Linked DNA regions of Homo sapiens. The protein of the gene in region 1 purifies or fractionates together with the protein of each later gene. This does not show direct contact. Each region holds a gene or a part of one and is shown in the gene's direction. Other genes may lie near its edges.

Region 1 (7,562 bases):
GATGGCAAAATAGCTCTCGAAATGGATATTGGTGATAATTATATAACGTTGTAAATGTACTTAATGAAACTCAATTGTACACTTAAAATGGTTAAAGTGGTAAATTTTATATGATGTATATTTTACCAGTTAAGAAAACATAGTTTCCTTCCTTAAAAATAAGTCACTCATAACCTATGGACCAGATCACTCTCATTAGCTCCAGACCCAATTTCCAGCTGAAACCTTGAACCCGATGTCCAGGATGTCCATGATGTCTTTACTTTCCCACGACCACATCTGTTTCCCTCACAAAATCAACTCCTAGTTTCTTTTCCTATAAGCCATGTTTCCATATTAACAGCTTGACCACCCACCAAGTCTATTAGGCTCAGATCATCCTTGATTTTCTTCTCATTCCTGCAGCCAATCATCTCCCCAGTTTTGGTTTTGTTTTGTTTTGTTTTTATCAATCCTACCTTCTACATACGTCTTGGATTTCCTTCCTCTTTTTCATCACTATGGTCACAATCTTAGTTTAGGGACTCATCTTCCCCCTGTCTCACCTGGATTATTGTCATAACTTTTTGCTTGGTCTATCTGCCTCTCCAGTATCCCTCTAGAGGGCATCATCTCATCTTCCACAATCTGTCTTTACAACCACCAGTAGCATTTTCTTACAGCATTTCAAATCTCATCATGCTGCTTTCTTCCTTTAAAACATTCCCTGATGCCCTTGGGATAAAGTCCAAACTCCCTGGCACACGAGGCTCGCTCTCAACAACTTGACCCCCACCTGCTTTTCCAACCACTCACCATCCCGGACCACAGCCACATTGACTGCTCGCTCTACTGTATCCATGCTCTTTTCCCATGTCTTCTTCCTGGAATGCCCTTTTCCAAGGGAACTCCTATTTACCCTCCAAAATCCAGCCAAAATGCCACCTCTTGTATGGATTACTCCTCAGTTCCCACAAGAAGGATTAACTGTTCCCTTCTCTTTGGTAGCTTTGCATATTATAAGCGAGTGTCATTTTGTTTTAAAAGTATTTACCTCCCGATATTGCCACCCTAGAGCACGAGCTTCTAAAGGCTGGAACTGGGACTTGATTCCACTGGGTCTTTTTTCCTAATTACAATTTAGATGAACAAGAGATTTCTTTCTCCTTATTCAAGAGTGAATATTGAAGGAAGTCACTAAAATTAATTTAAAGTGTTTGTAATTTCTAATGCTCTTTGAATTGCTAAAAGTAAACAGAAATGTAAAATACAAAATCTAGAAAATACCTTTTTTAAGACTTTATTTTTTTAAAGCAGTTTTAAGTTCACAGCAAAATTGAAAGGAAAGTACGGAGATGTCCCATATACCTCCTGCCCCCACACATGCATAGCCTCCCCCATTATCAACATCCCTCACCAGAGAGGTACATTTGTTTCTGTGTGTGTGTGTATTTTTTTTGTTTTGTTTTGTTTTTTTGAGACAGAGTCTCACTGTATTGCCCAGGCTAGAGTGCAGTGGCGTGATCTCGGCTCACTCCAATCTCCACCTCCTGGGTTCAGGTGATTCTCCTGCCTCAGCCTCCTGAGCAGCTGGGATTACACGCACCTGCCACAACACCTGGATGATTTTTGTACTTTTAGTAGAGACAGGGTTTCACCATGTTGGCCAGACTGGCCTCAAACTCCTGACCTCAGGTGATCCGCCTGCCCCGGCCTCCCAAAGTGCAGGGATTACAGGCGTGAGCCACCGTGCCCAGCCTATATTTGTTACAATTGATGAACCTACACTGACACATCATAATCACCCAAAGTCCATTGCATTTGTGTTCACTCTTGATGTTGTACATTCTATGTGTTTGGACAAATGCAAAATGACATGAATCCACCATTACAGTATTGTACAGAGTAGATGCACTGCCCCAGAAATTCTCTGTGCTTTGCCTATTCATCCTGCCTATCCCACGTCCAGCCCACACAACTACTGATATTTTTACCTATTTTTGCCTTTTCCAGAATGTTACATAGTTCGAATCATACACTAAGTAGCCCCGCAGATTGCTTCTTTCACTTAATAACATGCATTTAAGATTCTTCCATGTTTATTCATGGTTTCACAGCTCATTTCTTTTTAGCACTGAATAATATTTCATTGCCTGGATGTCCCGCAGTACATGTATTCATTCACCTACTGAACGACATCTTGGTTGTTTCCAAGTTTGGGCAATTATGGATAAAGCTACTATAAACATCTATATGTATGTTTTTGTGTAAACATTTATTTTTATCTCCTTTAGGTAAACACCAAGGAGCACCATTGCTGAATCATATTGTAAAAGTATGTTTCATTTTGAAAGAAACCATCAAACTGTCTTCCAAGGTGGCTGTACCATTTTTCATTTCCACTAAAACATCCTGCAATTGCCACTGTCAGCGTTCTGGATTTTGGCCTTTCTAATTGGTAAGTAGTGGTATCTCATTACTGTTTTGATTTGCATTTCCCCAATGACATATGATGTGAAGAATATTTTCATATGCTTATTCACTATCTGTATATCTTTTTTGGTAAGATGACTGTTAAGGTTTTTGGCCCATCTTTAAAATCAGATTGTTTGTGTTTTTATTGTTGAGTTTTAAAAGATACTTGTATATTTTGGATAACAGTCCTTTATTGGATATGTCTTTTTTTTTTTTTTTTTTTTTTTGAGAGAGAGAGAGAGTCTCCCTCTGTCACCCAGGCTGGAGTGCAGTGGAGTGATCTCAGCTCACTGCAACCTCTGCCTCTGAGGTTCAAGCAGTTCTCGTGCCTCAGCCTCCTGAGTAGCTAGGACTACAGGCACGCATCACCATGTTTGGCTAATTGTTGTATTTTTATTAGAAACAGGGTTTTGCCATGTTTCCCAGGCTTGTCTCAAACTCCTGACCTCAGGCAATCCACTGGCCTCAGCTTTCCAAAGTCCTAGGATTACAGGCGTGAGCCACCGCGCCTGGCCATGGATGTGTCTTTGCATTCATTTTCACCCAATTTGTGGCTTGTGTGCTCATTCACTTGAGGAAATGCCTTTTGATTTTAATTCAATGCAAATATTACCAAAAACGTGATATAATTCCATTTTTAGCTTATTCAAGTAAAGTTCATAAATATTCATTATTCTACAAATATTTATGGTGCACCTTATCACATGTCAAACTCTGACTAAGGATACCAATTACTCTAGTTAAACTGTGACCGTACAGAATCAAGACATCTCTGTAAAGAGAGCAAATTTAATTAACTGATCTGAAAATTTTACCTTTGCTGGCTCACAGTGCTCAATTACCATGTAATTGAAGTGATATGTGATTAATTAAATTTTTTAGCTCCAGCATATTTGGAGTGTTTCCCATGATGTATTAGAGTCAAAAGCCATGGTGTTCTCCCAAGTAATGTATAATATAATAAAAGAGACAGACCTATTACAAAATGAATAGGCAGTGCAGTGGGATAGAAAAAGCACTGAGCTACTATCTGTGTGAGCTGGGAGAAGTATAATAAGTTAAATTATCATCTTGGCCTCACTTTCATTTTTGGTAAGAATGGAGTCATTGGGCTAGAATCTGTAGGTAATGGATTCTTACTGCTATACGTAGAATAACCATTTTGTGTACTAAGGACCAATGCAGCCCTACCTGTAGCTGGGCAGCAGCCAGAGTCAGAGTGATTGGAAGAAAAAAATTGGATCTCCAAGTTGAAGGTCTAGCCTTGGAAGAATCTGTTACTATAAAATGAGAAGCAGAATAAGTAAGCCAGATGAAGAGTTAAACCCGTGCTTGTAGATTTTTGTTGGCTTGGTATTTTTTTGTGTTTAATTCAAGAAGAATTAGAGGCAGTGTTCCCCATTAAGAAAAGACATAAACTGATTAAAAGGAGACCCAAAGAAGGGAATTATCACTGCTCTGCTAAGGGACGTGGAAGGTGAGGGGACACAGCACAGTTGTATATAGAGTGGCCACTAATCCAGCCACACAGCAGCATTTCCATCTGCCTCCTGCCATCTTTCCCCTGTATGGAGAACCACAGGATTTTGGTGATGTTCTATTTCTTGACTTTGGTGACGGTTACAGTATTTGCTTAATTATTATTTCATTATTTACATGTTTTGTGCACTTTTCCAAACCTTTTAATTGTTAAGAATATATGGTACCATGTATTTAAGAATACATGGTACCATATAATAAGAATATATATTTAAGAATATATATTATTCTTTAAGAATATATGGTACCATAATGTCCTGAATGATACCTATGAGAGCAGTCATTTGACTTTGGCAAAAAAATGAGGTTTCTCATGGAGTCAATTTATGCAGCAGACAGAAAAAAAAATCCTTTGAAAGACAAATACATTGTGTGCTTCCTGCCAATAACGATGTAATACTTCCTCGTTTTAGTTAATGAAAAATAACACATACTTTCAAAGTTCTGTAGACTCTAAAAAGAAAGAAAACACTCAAATGAGTCACCTATTTCCACATTCGAGGCTGAGAAGCTATATAAATTTCTGCAGTCACTAGCAGAAAACACCAAATCAACCATAGGTCCAAGAACAATTGTCTCTGGACGGCAGCTATGCGACTCACCGTGCTGTGTGCTGTGTGCCTGCTGCCTGGCAGCCTGGCCCTGCCGCTGCCTCAGGAGGCGGGAGGCATGAGTGAGCTACAGTGGGAACAGGCTCAGGTATGTCACAGCCCACTTACTTAGGGTTCCATTCTTTTGCCATCTGCATTAAGAAATGTGTTTTTCAATTATTTCCCTTCCCATGTTAGCATTGCAGTGGAATTTTCTTTGGGGTGGTTCTTCGGATTATAAAAGCAATATATGTTTTCATCAAGTAGCCATTAAAAGCAGGTTTCAGAATCTGCTCAAATCGGGCTTGAGTTCCAACCCTCCACTCACTATGTAGATAGACTCAGGAAGGTCATCAAACTTCTCTAAGCTTCAGGTTTCCAATTTGGAAGTTGGAGATAAGAATGGTATCAACCAAATGAGGGTGTTGTGAAGCATTCAACACAATACCTGAAACATTGTTTAAATTAAGTTCTTATTTTTATTTATTATAACTTGAGATTCTTTTTCTATAGTATACAGAATATTGCCTCTTAAGATACAACCTGTAAATATACTGTTTGTGTATTTACAATACTGTTTGTAATGGAGATATCTGAAGTCAGAAAACATGGGTAGAAATTACAACTCTCCAACAAGTCAATGACAATAGACAAGGCATTAACATCTGACTTTGTTTTCTCATGTGTCCAGTAGAAAAAATAATATTATGTGTTTTATACCTCATGGGGTATTCTAGTAAGTAAATGAGGTGATAACAAAACCAACTAGCATGTATGTAACAATTGTAGATTATAAAGTACTTATATAGACATTGTGTCATTTAATCCTTAGTTCTATAAAAAGAGGAAACCAAAGTTAAACTGATTAGTGTACTTATTAGTGGTAGAGATAGAAATCAAGGACAAGTGCTTCTGGTTCAAAAATCATGTTCCTTGCAATATGCTTCTTAATAAGCAGTCTAATAAATATAAGCAGTCTACTAATTATTATTTGGTTAACTAATGGGATGATTACTTATAACTATTATTTGTAAATTTAGGCCTTAAGCATAAGAAAAGTCAATTTTTAATTCACATTAACTTAGACTTTTAAAAAGTTCCAGTTATAATAAGTTAGATTGAACCACATAAAGTTACTAGTATTTAACTTTTAAAATCTCCAAAACAGTAGTTTTATATGGTTCCACCTAATGAATTCTCCAGAAAGAGTACTCTGCGTTTAGTTTCTTTACTTAGAGTGAAGGTTGGCAGAAACTTAGTCTTCACTTGGAGGGATGTTAGCTAGGTTTAACAAAAAAACAGGAAAAGTCATCTCAACAAAGCAGAGAGATTTCTTCCAGAGGGTGTCTTGGTAAAGTCTGTAGCTCTAGAAGGGATTAAATGGGTTATTTGTTTTTAAATAAAGGATCAGTTATCAATTGTCATGGATGAACAATAAGTATTTGTTGTATTTAATGAGACAATTGTTGGTAACAGGAAAAAAAGACACAATATTAATAAGATTTCTTACATAAATTGCATATTCCTGGGCGGTCCTAAGACAGGTAACCATTACCATCTACTCCAAATAAACTGCAAATTAGTGAGCCAATGTTTAAATCATTTTAACAACAATATTATCAGGCATCATATAACCCTACACATGTTTCTAATGTATAGAAGTCAGAACACTTGAGTTCAAATACTGGTTCCTTCAGTTACTCACAAGGTGATCTTGTGCAATTTATTTCACTTCTCTGAGCTGTGTTTCTTCATGTATAAAATAGGGATAACAATGCCATACTTGTTTCATAGAGTGGTTATGAGGTTTACATAAAATAAATATGTAAGTGCCTGGCTCTAGTAAGTGCTTAAAAATGTTCCTGTGAGGTTGCTATTGTTGTTAGTTCATTCACTTTTGTTGTTGTTGTATTTGTGCTGCTGGATTCCTATCCTCATATTCAGATACTGAGAAACTTTAGAGAAATTCCCAGGAATCCAACCTTGCATGGAATAAACCTGGGAGTCCTACTGTATACTGCAATCTCCCAAAGTGGGTTTGACTAGAGATTTAACAGCAGAAAGAAGGGCTGGGAATGGAATGAGCAGAAAGAGGGAAAAGAGGACCTAGGAGTCAGGAAAGTCAAGTCCAGTTCTGCTACTAATTTAAGGTGTGAACCTGGGCACATAAATCATTTAGTTGCTATAAGCTTTGGTTCCTTCACCGGATTATTAAATTGAACTATTTAATAATTTCCTAATATCTTTTCCCAGAGCTAAAATTTTAAGACCCTTTAACTTTTAGCTGGAACCGCATCTCAGCTGGACTTTAGATAGGGCTGGTTGACCTCAGATCTCCCCCACAGGGTCTATGATAACACAGAGAATGTCCCAGTCGTACCCCTGAGGACAGACTGGTACATGCTTCCTGATTGCTCTTACACACTTCTAGGCTTTATAAAGTGTACAGTGTAATTCTCCCCAAAACATTTAAATGGATTTTTTAAAAATTGAGGGATTCTTTTCTTTTGCTCACGAAATGGCACGCCAGTGCTTCATTAGCAATATTAAATTTTCTCCTCACTAATGCACACTTATTTTTCTCTGTGACTATGTAATTATTCTGTCTTCAAATCATTATTTGAATTCACAGGAACCAAAGGCAAGAGATATATAGGCTTCTAAGATAAAAGAATATAATAAACAAGAACTATAGATTAATTACTCTCTTTTCAATAGGACTATCTCAAGAGATTTTATCTCTATGACTCAGAAACAAAAAATGCCAACAGTTTAGAAGCCAAACTCAAGGAGATGCAAAAATTCTTTGGCCTACCTATAACTGGAATGTTAAACTCCCGCGTCATAGAAATAATGCAGAAGCCCAGATGTGGAGTGCCAGATGTTGCAGAATACTCACTATTTCCAAATAGCCCAAAATGGACTTCCAAAGTGGTCACCTACAGGTTAGTTTTGCTCTGGCTCATTTTGGCAAAAACA
Region 2 (7,030 bases), on another chromosome or scaffold:
TCATTTCCTTTGTATTTAGAGAACTTTTTCTAGTGGTTCCCTTTGGGTAGATCTGCTGGCAGCAGATTCTGTTAGTTTTTTGTCCTCTGAGATTGTCTTTATTTCTCCTTCATTCCTGAAGGATGTTTTCACTGGATATAAGAATCTGGGTTTGACAGTTCTTTCGACACCTGAAAAATATTTTGCTGCTTCCTTCTGGCTTCCATGGCTTATCATGACAAATCTTTCGTCATTCCAATTTGTTTTTCTCCTGCAGGTAAGGTGTCATTTTTCTCCGGCTGCTTTCAAGATGTTTTTTCTTTGTCTTTAGTTTTCAGAAGTTTAATTATGATGTGTCTTGCTGTGGATTCCTTTGGGTTTTTCTTGTGTAGGGGTTCACTGTGCTTCTTGAATCTGTTGGTTTATATTTATTGCCATATTGTGAGAATCTTCAGCCATTATTGCTTTGAGTACTTTTTCAGCCCTGTCCTCCGTGTCCTCAGCGTCCAAGGCTCTGATGACATGAATGTTAGATCTTTTGTTATAGTCCCACAAGCCCCAGAGACTTTGTTCTTTTTGTTGTTGTTGGTGGTGGTGGTGGTGTTGGTCTGTGTTCTTATCTATCTATCAATCAATCAGTCAATCAAGAGACGAGGTCTCGGGCTGGAGTGCAGTGGCACGATCTTGGCTCACTGCAGCCTTGACCTCCCAGGCTCAAGCAGCTCTCCTACCTCAGCCTCCCAAGTAGCTGGGACCACAGGCATGTGCCACCATGCCTGGCTAGTTTTGTTTGTTTGTTTGTAGAGACGAGATTTTGCCATGTTAACAAAGCTGGTCTCGAACTCCTGGCCTCAAGTGATCCTCCTGCTTCAGCCTCCAAAGTGCTGGGATTATAGGCATGAGCCACTGTGCCTAGCCTTCATTTATTTTATTTTTCAGTTCTAATATTCCCATTTGGTTTTAAATGTTTTATTTGCCTGAACTTTGTTTCTTTGCTCAGTCTTCCTGTTTTCTTGTGTGTTTTGTGTGTGTGTGTGTGTGTGTGTGTGTGTGTGTGTGTTTTCAAGCATGTTTTTAATTTCTCATTGAAGCATTTTTGTCATGATTCCTTTGTCTTGGTTGGGTAATTCTGTTTCTGTCATCTCAGGGTTGGAAGTTGTGTTTATCTTTTTGCATTTGATATCTTCGTGTCTTGGTGTGATGAGCTATTTTCATTTGAAACTGGACTCACTCATGTTATGAAACTCTAGATCTTGTTTAAACCCTTTAGTTTGGTTTTCTTTGCCTAGCACTGCTGTGACAAGGGAACCAGGCACTGTCTCCTTACTGCCAGTGGAGGTAGAAGTTCAGGTTCCACTTGGCCTTCGCTGACACCTGGGAGTGGGGGCTCCTCGTTGCTTCTGGTGGAGGTGGTAGTTTTGGCTCTTCACGCGGCCTCCACAGGCACCGCACTGGCGTGTCCTCTTTATTGCAGGGAGATGGTGAAAGTCTTGACTCTCCTTGGCCTCCTCTGACACCACCTCAGAGGGAGGAAGGGAGCTCCATATCGCCTCCTTTCTTTCTCTTGCAGCAGAAGTCTACCAGCCTCTCCACTTGCTCATGCTGGCATGGGTAGAGATGGGACCACGTTTTTTTCTTTAGTGTTAAGCTTGAGTACAGTGGTTCTTATCTAAAACTTTTGTCCTTTTAGGCAGCCCTTCCCTGGTCCTTTGGCTTTTGTTGGGATTCTTTTGGGTCTGTACCCATTGGTATTTCCATGTTACTGGCTTCTTAGCTGCATGTCTGGCATATCTGAGGCAAAAAGTGAACCCAGGGAACTCATCCCTGTGCCGTTCGTCAGGTCCTGCAGTCTTTGGCTATTCTGCCTTCTCTCCTTTTTTCAGAGTTTTGTGTTTGCTTTACACATAATATACAGTGCTTTTAGTTGTACCTAGTGGGAAGAATAGGGAAAAGTGTTTTTACTCCATCTACCCTAAAGTAACTTCTCATTTACTTTTTTGTTCTTTCTCAGGACTCAGTATAGTTTTAATTCCAGAATTTTATTGTTATTGACTTTATTCATATATATTGTTTTCTGTTTCCAAGTAGTGAAGAGCAGATTAATTTTCAATTTAAAAGAAGTCCTGGCCGGGCGCGGTGGCTCACACCTGTAATCCCAGCACTTTGGGAGGCCGAGTCGGGTGGATCACGAGGTCAGGAGATTGAGACCATCTTGGCTAATGCGGTGAAACCCTGTCTCTACTAAAAATACAAAAAATTAGCCGGGCATGGTGGCAGCTGCCTGTAGTCCCAGCTACCTGGGAGGCTGAGGCAGGAGAATGGCGTGAACCCGGGAGGCGGAGCTTGCGGTGAGCCGAGATGGTGCCACTGCACTCCAGCCTGGGCAACAGAGCGAGACTCCATCTCAAAAAAAAAATAAGAAAAAGAAAACAGCATCACTGTAGGTCTGGTTAGAATGAGCTGTTTACCTGATACCGAGAAGTTTTCAGTTGACTTCATTTTCTCAAGATGTGTTTCACAAAGGGTCCTGATAAGCTTCAGGTTGTAACTGCTTATCTCACGGGATTGTGACTCAGTGAAAACATGAAAAGGCTGTGGTGGGTATAAAGAACCACACACACGTGAGAGAATGGTACTCTTGTAATTGCCTTCCTGCAAATACCTACTTTGCACTTAGAGCAGCACATTTTTCTTTTTATAATTCTTAGAATCCTAGAATCTTAAAACCGAAAGATCTTAAAGATAAATGAACTTTGCCATTTTTCCCATCCATGCAACTCAGCTTCTTTGAAGGATACTCCACTGCCTCACAGCACAGGGTGTCTCAAATAGTTAACAGTGTTTGCCAACCTCTTCTATTCGGCCTTGGCCTTTCCTGTTAAATTTTTTTTTTTTTTTTTGAGACAGAGTCTCGCTCTGTTGCCCAGGCTGGAGTGCAGTGGCGCGATCTTGGCTCACTGCAAGCTCTGCCTCCCAGGTTCACGCCATTCTCCTGCCTCAGCCTCCTGAGTAGCTGGACTACAGGCGCCCGCCACCACGCCTGGCTGTTTTTTTTTGTTTGTTTTTGCTTTTTTTTTCTTTTATATTTTTAGTAGAGACGAGGTTTCACCGTGTTAGCCAGGATGGTCTCGATCTCCTAACCTCGTGATCCGCCCGCCTCGGCCTCCCAAAGTGCTGGGATTACAGGCATGTCTTCCTTCTGCTCTTTGAGTCCAGTCTTTTATGAGAGAATAGGAAAAAACACTTCCTTTAGGTTTTGATCATTCTTATCTACCATATCCTTTAGTTTTTCTTCATTTGGTATGGTTAACATCTTTGACCATTTTATCTGCCTTCTTCAAACTGCAGAATTTGTCTGGTTTTCTTAAAATGGCGCTGTGGCATCCAGAATAATACACAATGCTTGTGTAGGATGGATAGGAACTTTGCTCCATGAAACCCTGCGCTGCACTGTTGTTATTTGTACTTTTATTTCTCATGTACATAAGAAACCCTTCTGAGAGGATTTGAGATTCTTGTAGGTATATGTAAATCATTGTTTTTGCTCTCATTTTGGAACAAAGCAGTTATTGAATTTACAGATGGCTCATGGCCCTGGGATTTTTTCCCCCTCCTTAGTGAGTTAATTCTTAAGCCAAGTCAGCCCCATTTTGTTGCTTTGTTCAGTATGACTTTAAAAAATCTAAGTGCAAGTGTATATTTGTCATTAGGGTGTTTTGTTGTTAGCTTTGTGACATTGTAGAGTTTTGATTCTCTGATGCATTACGCTGGCTTTCATCCTTCCCTTCACTGTTTCCTCTGCCCACCCACTCTCCCAGTCACCTGCCTGCCCCGTTCGTGTTTTGCTCACTCTTGTTTGTTATAACCATCTGTATTATTGAAAGTGTTGGCAAGGCAGGGTCAGATATAGAGCACTGCTAGTGCATTTCTGATTGACATCAGCCCATTAACATTATGTTTTGAATGTGTATATAGAACATGGTATGAATCATTTTTACTTATATCAGAAACTGAAAAAACAATATTTTCTATAGTCTGACATCTTACTAGTAACTATAACATAGTTATGGATGATCTGATAATTTTGATACATTTTAAAATTTTGAAACATTTTATTACTTAGTTTCATTTTACTTATTTCAAAAATATTTCCAGGAAATCCCCTTACCCAGGATATATTGAACCTTTATCAGGAACCAGATGGAACAAGACGGCTGCTGAACTATTTGCTTGATAATTTGTCAGGTACTGCAAAAAGAAGTAAGTGGTTATTTGTTTAAACCTTTTTATTAGGAAGACGTGTAAGAATATTGCTTAATTCTGTATTTTCTATTCAACTAGTTACAACAGAACAACCACCTCCAAGGTCTTGGATTATGTTACAAGAACCAGATAGGACAAGGCCAACTGGTTGGTAGTCTTTTATTTTTTAACTGTTATTTTTGCTCAGTCTCTATAAGCCTAACAGTATTGTCAGCATGCTTAGATTACAGGTAGCATTAAGACAAAATGTTTAAGGTTGGTTTGGTTTGGGAGGTAATAAAAAAGAATTCTTGCTCACATGACCTCTATGTATACTACATTGTGCTATATAGAAAGTGTGCTATAAAGCAGTGCTTCTCAAACGGGCAGTTTATCCCCCAGAGGACATTTGGCAATGTCTGGAGACAATTTTGATGGTCGTAACTGGGGAGAAGTGCTGCTGGCGTCTGGTGGATGGAGGCCAGGGTTGCTGCTCAGCATTCTATAGTACACGGCACAGGCCCCCACAACAGACTTCACCTGAAATGTCAGTAGTGCGACTCTGGTTGAGAAACCCTTCTGTAGTGTACTGATGAAATTCACTTAAAATGAATACACCCAAATTTTTCTCTATGAGAAGTTTCCAAATCCTAGCATGTTCCAAATGGATTTGACACTACCGAGTTATAAGAGAGCCAAACCCTTACTTAGAGGAAAGTGGAACTAATGACTGCTCATCTCCTTTTAACCTAAATTCTATGTAAATAGTTTGGGAGCTTTCATGGTGCGTGTAACAAAATTTGGTCTGTGATACCGTTTTCATTTTGCATGAATTAACAATAGTTGTGCTGTAGAAGAAAATGAGGCATGCCTATTAAGGATACTACCTATCCAGTTTCCACATCTTACATTAACAGTTGGTAGCATGGTAGAAGGAGTATAGAAATGAGGAATGTTAGGCTCAGAGACTGAAGGGCTCACGAGCTTAGACTTTTCACTTCCAGACCTTCTGTGCCTACCTCTGTAGCAGGTAGTACATTGTATTCTAACTTGTTCACTTATCTATCCTGCTTGCATTATCCGTCTTTTATTTATCCCCCATATGTGGCGTACAGTAGCTTTTCAGTGACTATAGATTGAATGAATACGGTCAAACTTAACATTTAAGTGAAAACCATTACTGAAATTAATTATATATTTTTTTCTGCCACATGTGTGAATAAGTAAAGTTATCTTTCCTACAGCCTTGTTTTCTGTCATGTGCTATAATGTTCTTTGTGATAAATATGCGACCCGGCAGTTATACGGCTACTGTCCATCATGGGCGCTAAACTGGGACTACAGGAAAAAGGCCATTATTCAAGAAATCTTGAGCTGCAATGCTGATATCGTAAGTCTTCAGGTAAGTCAGACAGAAGACAGTCAACCTAGCATTGATAAAGGAAGGAGCAACTAGGAATACATTACGCTGACACATTTGAAGTTTTAGCTTCAGTAGTTCTTAAAGTACTGCTTTTTTCTGTTATTAGTGAATCCTGGGAGTACTGCCTGCTTTGCTTTGCAGTGCTATGTTGCAAAATAGGCAAATGTGTTAAGCTGGGATTTATGCGTTTGCCATGACCGCTAAATACTCACCTTCCTCCTCCCTCCAGCGTCCCTGCACTATTTTTGAATTGGGTGGCAAAGTTACTGAAATTCTAGCGTGGTCAAGCTATAACTTGCATTGCCGACCATGTTGCTAGAACAATTAAGGCACCGTGTAAAAAGGACTGACTTGGTACACGAACATTTTGGGTTCTCAGTGCAACTCTCATAGTCACTCATATGATCTTGAACATGTTACTTTCTGCCCAAGGGTCTGAAGTTATGATTTGTAAAGTTCGTCGACCTCTGTGGTTCTTGTTCCACCTCAGTTCTAAGACATAAGGAAATACACATGCATAGAAGTGTGTCTTTCACTCACTGTTCTTAAACAACAATGAGTTGCCCTTGGTACCTAGTACCTGTAAAATGACAAGTCGCTGTTCCAGTTGGTTTCAGATAAATAGTGTTGAAAAGATGTTACTTTTTTTTTTTTTTTTTTTTTTTTTTTGGGTGGTGGGGAGACAGGCTCTTTCTCTGTCCCCCAGGCTGGAATGCAGTGGCATGATCTCAGCTCACTGCAACCTCCGCCTCCTGGGTTCAAGTGATTCTCAGCCTCCGTAGTAGCTGGGATTACAGGCATGCACCACCATGCCTGGCTAATTTTTGTATTTTTAGTAGAGATGGGGTTTCGCCATGTTGGCCAGGCTTGGTCTGGAACTCCTGGGCTCTAGTGATCCGCCCGCCTCGGCCTCTCAAAGTGCTGGGGTTACAGACATGAGCCACCATGCCCGGCCCGGAAAGATGTTACATTCTTTAATCTGCAGACCAGTCCTTTGAAATTATTTCAAGCTCTCAAACTATACATAGAAGTTAATATGCAGACTAATTTTTGTCTTATGAAATAACTGTGCTGTTTACAACTTTTCAGGAGGTTGAAACGGAACAGTATTACAGTTTTTTTCTGGTAGAGCTGAAAGAACGTGGCTATAATGGATTCTTCAGTCCTAAGTCTAGAGCTAGGACAATGTCAGAACAAGAAAGGAAACATGTTGATGGCTGTGCAATATTCTTCAAGACAGAAAAGTAAGTCATCTTATTTTTTAAAAAGAACGTTTTCTCAGTATTTGCAGGGTGGGGGCCAAGGGTGTGGAAACTAATTGGCAAATGAGAGAATGAGGCACTATATTATTACTGAAGCAAAGAATACTGTTTGACCTAGGGGGTT
Region 3 (7,030 bases), on another chromosome or scaffold:
CAGCTCACTGCAACCTCTGCCTCCCAGGTTCAAGCAATTCTCGTGCCTCAGCCTCCCAAGTAGCTGGGATTATAGGCATGAGCCATCACGCCCAGCCAACAGTGACTCTTGAGAGAACTATAAAAAGTATTGAAGCATTTGTTAGAGTACTTAACACACTTTTGCTCTGAGTAGTTTAGGTTTGGTTCAGCTGAGATTTTTACCTTTATTTTGGAATTCTATTTTCAAATTAAAACAAAAAGCAAAACATCTAATATTTAAAATAGCAAATTATAGAGGTAGGAGGTAGTTTTCCCAGCTAAACAGATTATTAACCTTTACTGTGAATTTATATGGACACTTAACATATTAAAGAAACTTTTTAAATGTGTTAATATTTTGGATTTCTGAGCCTATGAAAATATTCCTTGCCTGGAAATTAGCTGTAAGCCCTTATCAGTGTAGTTTTCTGATTGTTACTACTTTCCAACTAAATTATAAATCTCTTAAAGCCATCGTAGGTGTGTTTATATCTCCAGCACCTGCCATAGTTGCTTGAATATGTGGGACTGTATATTGCTGGGTGGCAGATCTAATATTTTTTAAAGAGCACAATATTCTCAGCTTGAATGTCCTCATCTACAGGGCTTGTGGTCTTTATTTAAGTGGGCAGGTTTTCATTGTGTTTCAACTTGGCCATAGGAACCTTTTCAAGCTTTCAGAGGAGTAGCTTCTTATTAGCTTATAACATTAATCAGTCATTGTTTTTTGTTGTTTTTTTTTTTTTGAGACGGAGTCCTACTCTGTCGCCCCGGCTGGAGTGCAGTGGCATTATCTTGGCTCACTGCAAGCTCCACCTCCCAGGTTCACGCCATTCTCCCGCCTCAGTCTCCCAAGTAGCTGGGACTACAGGCGCCCGCCACCACGCCAAGCTAATTTTTTTTTTTTTTTTTTTGTATTTTTAGTAGTGACGGGGTTTCACCGTGTTAGCCAGGATGGTCTCGATCTCCTGACCTTGTGATGTGCCCGCCTTGGCCTCCCAAAGTGCTGGGATTACAGGCGTGAGCCACCGTGCCTGGCAACATTAATCAGTTATTGTTGAGAGAGCCCTAACTTTGGCCACTTTATTAGGAAGAACACAAGATGAAAACTAGGGACAAATTCACTATACAGTAGTCCCCCACCTTTTCCTCAGAAGATACATTCAGGGTCCTCCGGTGGATACTTGAAACCACAGATAGTACTGAACCTATGTACTGCTTTTTTTAATACGTACATAACTATGATAAAGTTTATAAATGAGGCACAGTAAGAGATTAACAACAACAGTAATAAAATAACAGTTATCTGAATGTGGTTTCTCTTTCTCAAAATATCTTACTGTACCCTACTCACCTTTCTTCCTGTGACCTATTGATCTGATAACCAAGATGGCTACTGTGTGTCCAAGGGGGAGGTATCTTATACAACATGGAATGCTAGACAAAGGAATGATTGACTTCCTGGATGGGACAGAGCGGGACACTGCAGGATGGCAAGAGATTTCATCATGTTACTCAGAACATTGCTGTTTAAAACTTAAGAACTGCTTATTTCTGGAATTTTCCATCTGATATTTTCATACTTGACCTTGGGTAACTGAAACTGCAGAAAGTGAAACTGGATAAGGAGGGACCACTGTACAACTTTTATTTCTAAAGAACTGTAAAATTTGTGTGTTTGCAGATCAGGGAGCAGAGAAACATGAAGGCACAGGTCAGTCCTCTGGGATCACTGATCAAGAGAAGGAGTTATCCACCAATGCTTTCCAAGCTTTCACAGTAAGAAATGGCTTCTCTTAGTCTGCTCAAGTTGTAGGGTTCTGTCAAGTATGAATCTTTTCATAGTGAATTTTTAAATTTACAATTTTTACTCTGTAATAATTCAAAAGTTAATTTAGAGATAAGTAGGTTTAATTTTTAAAATAAATGTTTTAGAGTTTAAATATGGTGAAAGGAATGGGAATAATTGGAGCCATTCCCAAGTTTTTGTAAACATGTTTTAACTCATATACTGTTGTTTTTAAGTCTTTTAAATTTAGATTTGTAAGTATGTGGGTCAGTCTTTTCATTTCACTAAGCTGTTCAATTCTTTTATTTATTTATTTCTGAAAATATCAGATTCAAAAATTATTTTCTTGAAGGTACTTTAAAATGGAACCCCAAAACTTTATTGGCAGAATTTTAACTTTTTCTGGCATTAAACAATATGAAAGAAAACCTTATTTGGTTATCAGGTTACGTGCATGTAAGCAGAAGAACTTGATGCTTGGGTATTTAAAATATATTTACTAGAAAATAAAATTTGGAGTGATTATATTACCTTTCTTGACTAGCCTCAGCCATTAATACCCTGCTAGCACTATATGTATATGCCAGTATATTTATCATATCAATATATGTGTCTTATATGTGTCAATGTCAGGGTTTTGAGTCTTAGGAAGTAAATATCCACAGTTTAACTGACATGAATGTTGCTTTAGTGACTTTGATTAGTATATGTAGGGAAACTACATCTTTCTTTTTAAGAACTTTTAAGATAAAGATGAATGAAATATATTTGGAATGATATACTGTATTTAAAGCTGGTATGTAATTTTGTGTGTGTGTGTGTGGTTTTTTTTTTTTAGTCTGGAAATTATGATGCCTGTCTACAACACCTTGCCTGTCTACAAGATATAAACAAAGATGATTATAAAATAATTTTGAATACAGCAGTAGCTGAGTTTTTTAAAAGTAACCAAACAACAACAGATAATTTGAGACAAACACTTAACCAGCTGAAGAATCAGGTGATACATAAATGAATTTAACTATAAAAAATATTGTTCTGTTCTTTAATTTATGAAACACAAATAGTTAAGGAAAATAAATGTGATTTGTCTGGTATTTCTTGTCAGAAACATTTGTTAGCATTAATTTTATTTCCGTAAAATTATTATTCCAGGAGATAAAAGGTATGTTGTGGGATCATTTTTTTTAATTGGGGTTTTAATGAACTTGAACAGAATAGACTAATATACCAAATTTGAATGAGCTTTGGAGTTTTGAGAAAGAACTATATGAAGAAGCTTAGCTGTGGAGATATATCTTGTTTATAATGAAAAAAATATGATTAATCCTAATGTCAAGTCGTTTTAGCATTTGGATCAGGAGATGATTGATTAAATAGAAGATATTCTGCTTTGTATCTGGCTTGGGGCTTGAATTGGGGATTGGTCTGGTGATAATGGCAATGTTTCTTGAATCCTGGGGCTAGACTTTTGGTGTTCAAGAGGGCTGATAACAGTGATGGTGCTGATAGGATCAGCTAGCATATGTTAAGTGTTCACTGTGTGACAGGGCTCTGCCAAGCGCTTGTATGCAACTTCTCAGCTTGTTCTTCTCAGTAGCCCTATGAAATAGCTATATAATTTTTCTTATTTTAAAAGTGGAAAAGCCAAGGCACAGATAGCTGTGTAAATTGTCCAAAAACACAAAGTTTTTGAGTAGTAAGAGCTACATGAACTCAGTTGTATTTAACTCTATAGCCTGTAATTTTAGTTACTGCTTCATGCTGTTAGGGAGTCATGAGACCTTTCCTGTAATCATGAGTACCATGATACTCTATAGTATCACCCTAAAGTGTGACACAGGTAGAGAAGCAAGTTGTCCCTTCAGGCTCTCTGTAATCCTTTATAGGCATAAAGTAATTTTTAAACCCCATTAAAATTCAAAAATGAGAATAATAGCTACCATTTATTGAATGCATACTGGGTGCCAAATTCTGTATTAAGTGCCTTTTATGCCTTATCTCATATAATCCTCACATTCAACTCTTGAGGCAGTAGGTGCTTATTATCTCAGTTTTAAAACCAGAATTTAGGAAGTCTAATTTAAATTTACACAACTAGGAAGGGGAAGAACAGATTTAAACCAGGCCTTCTGACTCTTGAGCCTGTTCTCCTACCTGTCTCAGTCTTCATAAATTTGTATGTCCTCACGTTTCCTCATTACTCCAGTATTATTACTGATGATTTTATCTAGTGTTCCAGAATCAAAAGAAAGATGATGCTTACTGATAATCTAGTACATGCACCCTATGACCCCATAGACAGTTTCTTCCAAGACAAATTTGTTTGGTTTTTGAGAATAAGTTCAGCCTTTAAACTTTTTTTGAATAAGCAATTCCTGCAAACTTCCAGTTAGGCCAAAAAAACTTTGTGAAGTTCTTTCACTAGCTTTTATTGTTTATAAGGTTTGTTAGGGCCTTCCAACTCTTGAGTTTCCTAGAAGTGTTTGTACTTGTGGTTACTGACTTCTTTAAATCATACTTCTGTTCGCAGTCACATCGGGCACAGTGACACACCTTTTCAACCTATTCCATTTTAATTAGCAAACGTCTAATTTCACTTAATGAGTAGTTTTTCTTTTGGCTGGAGCAGTTACTAGACTATTTTGGTGAGTCATAGAATATGTGGCAAAGTTATTTGTGTGATAATTATTCAACCATTGCTGAATCCAAAACGCCATAGTTTATCTAAAAGCTTTTCTGGCTAAACTCTTCTTAACTCAGTCTCTCTCCATTACATAACTACAGAAAGAGTTGCCTTTGGAAATTGAGTTTTCACTGTTTGAAGATACTGTTTTTAATCTCTTTAAGATAGTGACTTGATAAGTGAAGATTATAAAAAGTTCCCAAACTCATTGAGATGCACATGTTGGTCAGCTAGGACCACTTGCTAACATTTGAACCATGTCAAGCTTAACCACGTGGGTGGTTGACGTCTGCTGAAGTCCAGTTACAAAATTTACAATTCATTGTGTGTAGTGAACCTTCAGGTTCCTTGCCATTAGTCAAACCAAGGCTGTTAAATCCATGTACTGTATATCAGAGTTCTATGGAAGTGTTGGTCTTAGAGTTAATTACTTAATATTGAACAATAATTTATTGCAATCTTCATAATGGCAAAGGTTAGTTTTAATACAAGTAGACTTCCAGTTTCATGTGTTACATGGAATTGTGCAATGGTTGTAAAGCTTGATTAAAATTTAAAAGCCCATTGCTACAGCTTACATAAGGGGGTATACAGTTTGAGAATGCAAAGTGTCATGCTTTTTTTTTTTTCTTTTGTGTCAGTTACAGATGTTAGCCTTTAGTGAAGCCCATAAAAGCCTTTTCTAACCATCATGTGTGCAATAATATATTTTTATTATTGAGTACTTTAAAAAAATCTATTCTTTTTTACGGGAACGAAACCTGAAAATATACTTTCTAGCCCTATGGCCTTGGGCAAGATAATTAAGTTTTCTGTGCTGGTTTCCTTATGTATAAAGTGGAAATGAAATTATCTATGTCCTCGGCCAGGTGCGGTGGCTCATGCCTGTAATCCAAGCACTTTGGGAGGCCGAGGTGGGCAGATCGCCTGAGGTCAGGAGTTCAAGACCAGCCTGGCCAACATGGTGAAACCCCATCTCTACTAAAAATACAAAATTAGCCAGGTGTTGTGGTGCATGCCTGTAGTCCGAGCTACTCAGGAGGCTAAGGCAGGAGAATCACTTGAACCCTGGAGGTGGAGGTTACACTGAGCTGAGTTCGTGCCACTGCACTCCAGCCTGGGTGACTCCATCTCAAAAAAAAAAAAATTATCTATGACCTTGAGGTATGGTGAGGATTAACCTGTAAAAGTTTTAACATAGCAAGTCTGGCACATGGTAAATAGTTAACTATTTTTGTTTTGTTTGATACAGAGTCTCGCTGTGTTGTTCAGGCTAGAGTGCAGTGATGTGATCTTGGCTCACTGCAGCCTCTGCCTTTTGGATTTAAGCAAGTTTCCTCCCTCAGCCTCCCGAGTAGCTGGGACTACAGGCACGTGCGACCACACCCAGCTAAATTTTTTTTTTGTATTTTGTATTTTTAGTAGAGACGGGGTTCACCATGTTGGCTAAGCTGGTCTCAAACTCCTGACCTCAAGTGATCTGCCTGTCTCGGCCTCCCAAAGTGCTGGGATTACAGGCATGAGCTGCCACGCCCGGCCAGCTATTATTAATGTTTAAATTTTACCTTAGTTTTTACAAAATGAAATCAAACTATGAATACTACGTGACATTTTTATGGGAAAGGTCATTTTGAGTTTGTTGCACGCCTGGTGTAGCCTCTTGTAGGTTGTGAGACTAGGAGATGGGAATCCTACTCAGAAGTGGTGTTACCAATTGAAACAGGGAAGATAGCTTCACAGTGACAAGGAAGATAATTGTCTAGCCATGTGCTGGGTACTTAATAAAGTCTCATGAAAACATTTTACCTAAAATTTTATTATGTGTGGCACAGAAGAATGAAAATAATTTTTAGTATGTGAGAGTAATTAAAATCTAAAGATACTGTTGAAAGTATGGAAAAATTCAGAATAAGAATGTTGGCCTATGTTCCTTTTTATTCATATGAATTCTTTCACTTTTGCTTTTTATTTCCTTAATGTTAAAATATAACCTCTGTTGATTGCTTTATAGGTCCACTCAGCTGTTGAAGAAATGGATGGATTAGATGATGTTGAAAACAGCATGTTGTACTATAATCAAGCAGTCATTCTTTATCATCTGCGGCAGTATACAGAAGCCATATCAGTTGGTGAAAAACTTTATCAGTTCATAGAGCCTTTTGGTATGTTATCTGTCAAGTCAAAAATTTCCCTATCTTCCCTATACTTGCAGAATTCTCTGGTACTTTTACCTAGATAACCTAAATCCGAGAAGTCCATGCCAGTATTCAAAGAAAAGCCGTATCAGCTTTGCTTAATGGTTAGAAAAGATAAAAATGTAATCCAGGTTTTCTTTGAGTGTCCCTTCCCAAATTTTGAAGATAACTGTTAAAAATGCTGTTGGAAAGTGCTGAAAACACTTAGTGATGTTTGTGGGGTTTTTGCTGTTTCAACACTATTTTAGTGTACCTGATCCTTTCTTACTTTAGTACATTAAGGAAGTAGCATTTTGGAATGTTAGGGGACAGTGAGGTATTTCATTTTTGCCCTTTGCCT

The links. Proteins that work in one complex are often made in the same cells at the same time.
Region 2: the proteins of MMP7 (region 1) and CNOT6 purify together in Homo sapiens (affinity purification with mass spectrometry; 3 studies listed by BioGRID and IntAct, with this or other methods). This does not show direct contact.
Region 3: the proteins of MMP7 (region 1) and CNOT10 purify together in Homo sapiens (affinity purification with mass spectrometry; 3 studies listed by BioGRID and IntAct, with this or other methods). This does not show direct contact.

Annotation. Positions count from the first base shown.
Region 1 is NC_000011.10:102,527,723-102,535,284, reverse strand, and holds the start of MMP7 (matrilysin preproprotein), read left to right. Parts: upstream 1-4,537; 5' UTR 4,538-4,584; coding exon 4,585-4,692; intron 4,693-7,301; coding exon 7,302-7,528; intron 7,529-7,562. UniProt on the Homo sapiens protein: Degrades casein, gelatins of types I, III, IV, and V, and fibronectin. Activates procollagenase.
Region 2 is NC_000005.10:180,560,355-180,567,384, forward strand, and holds part of CNOT6 (CCR4-NOT transcription complex subunit 6), read left to right. Parts: intron 1-4,134; coding exon 4,135-4,239; intron 4,240-4,320; coding exon 4,321-4,389; intron 4,390-5,465; coding exon 5,466-5,623; intron 5,624-6,733; coding exon 6,734-6,888; intron 6,889-7,030. UniProt on the Homo sapiens protein: Poly(A) nuclease with 3'-5' RNase activity.
Region 3 is NC_000003.12:32,702,164-32,709,193, forward strand, and holds part of CNOT10 (CCR4-NOT transcription complex subunit 10), read left to right. Parts: intron 1-1,704; coding exon 1,705-1,799; intron 1,800-2,647; coding exon 2,648-2,809; intron 2,810-6,506; coding exon 6,507-6,657; intron 6,658-7,030. UniProt on the Homo sapiens protein: Component of the CCR4-NOT complex which is one of the major cellular mRNA deadenylases and is linked to various cellular processes including bulk mRNA degradation, miRNA-mediated repression, translational repression during translational initiation and general transcription regulation.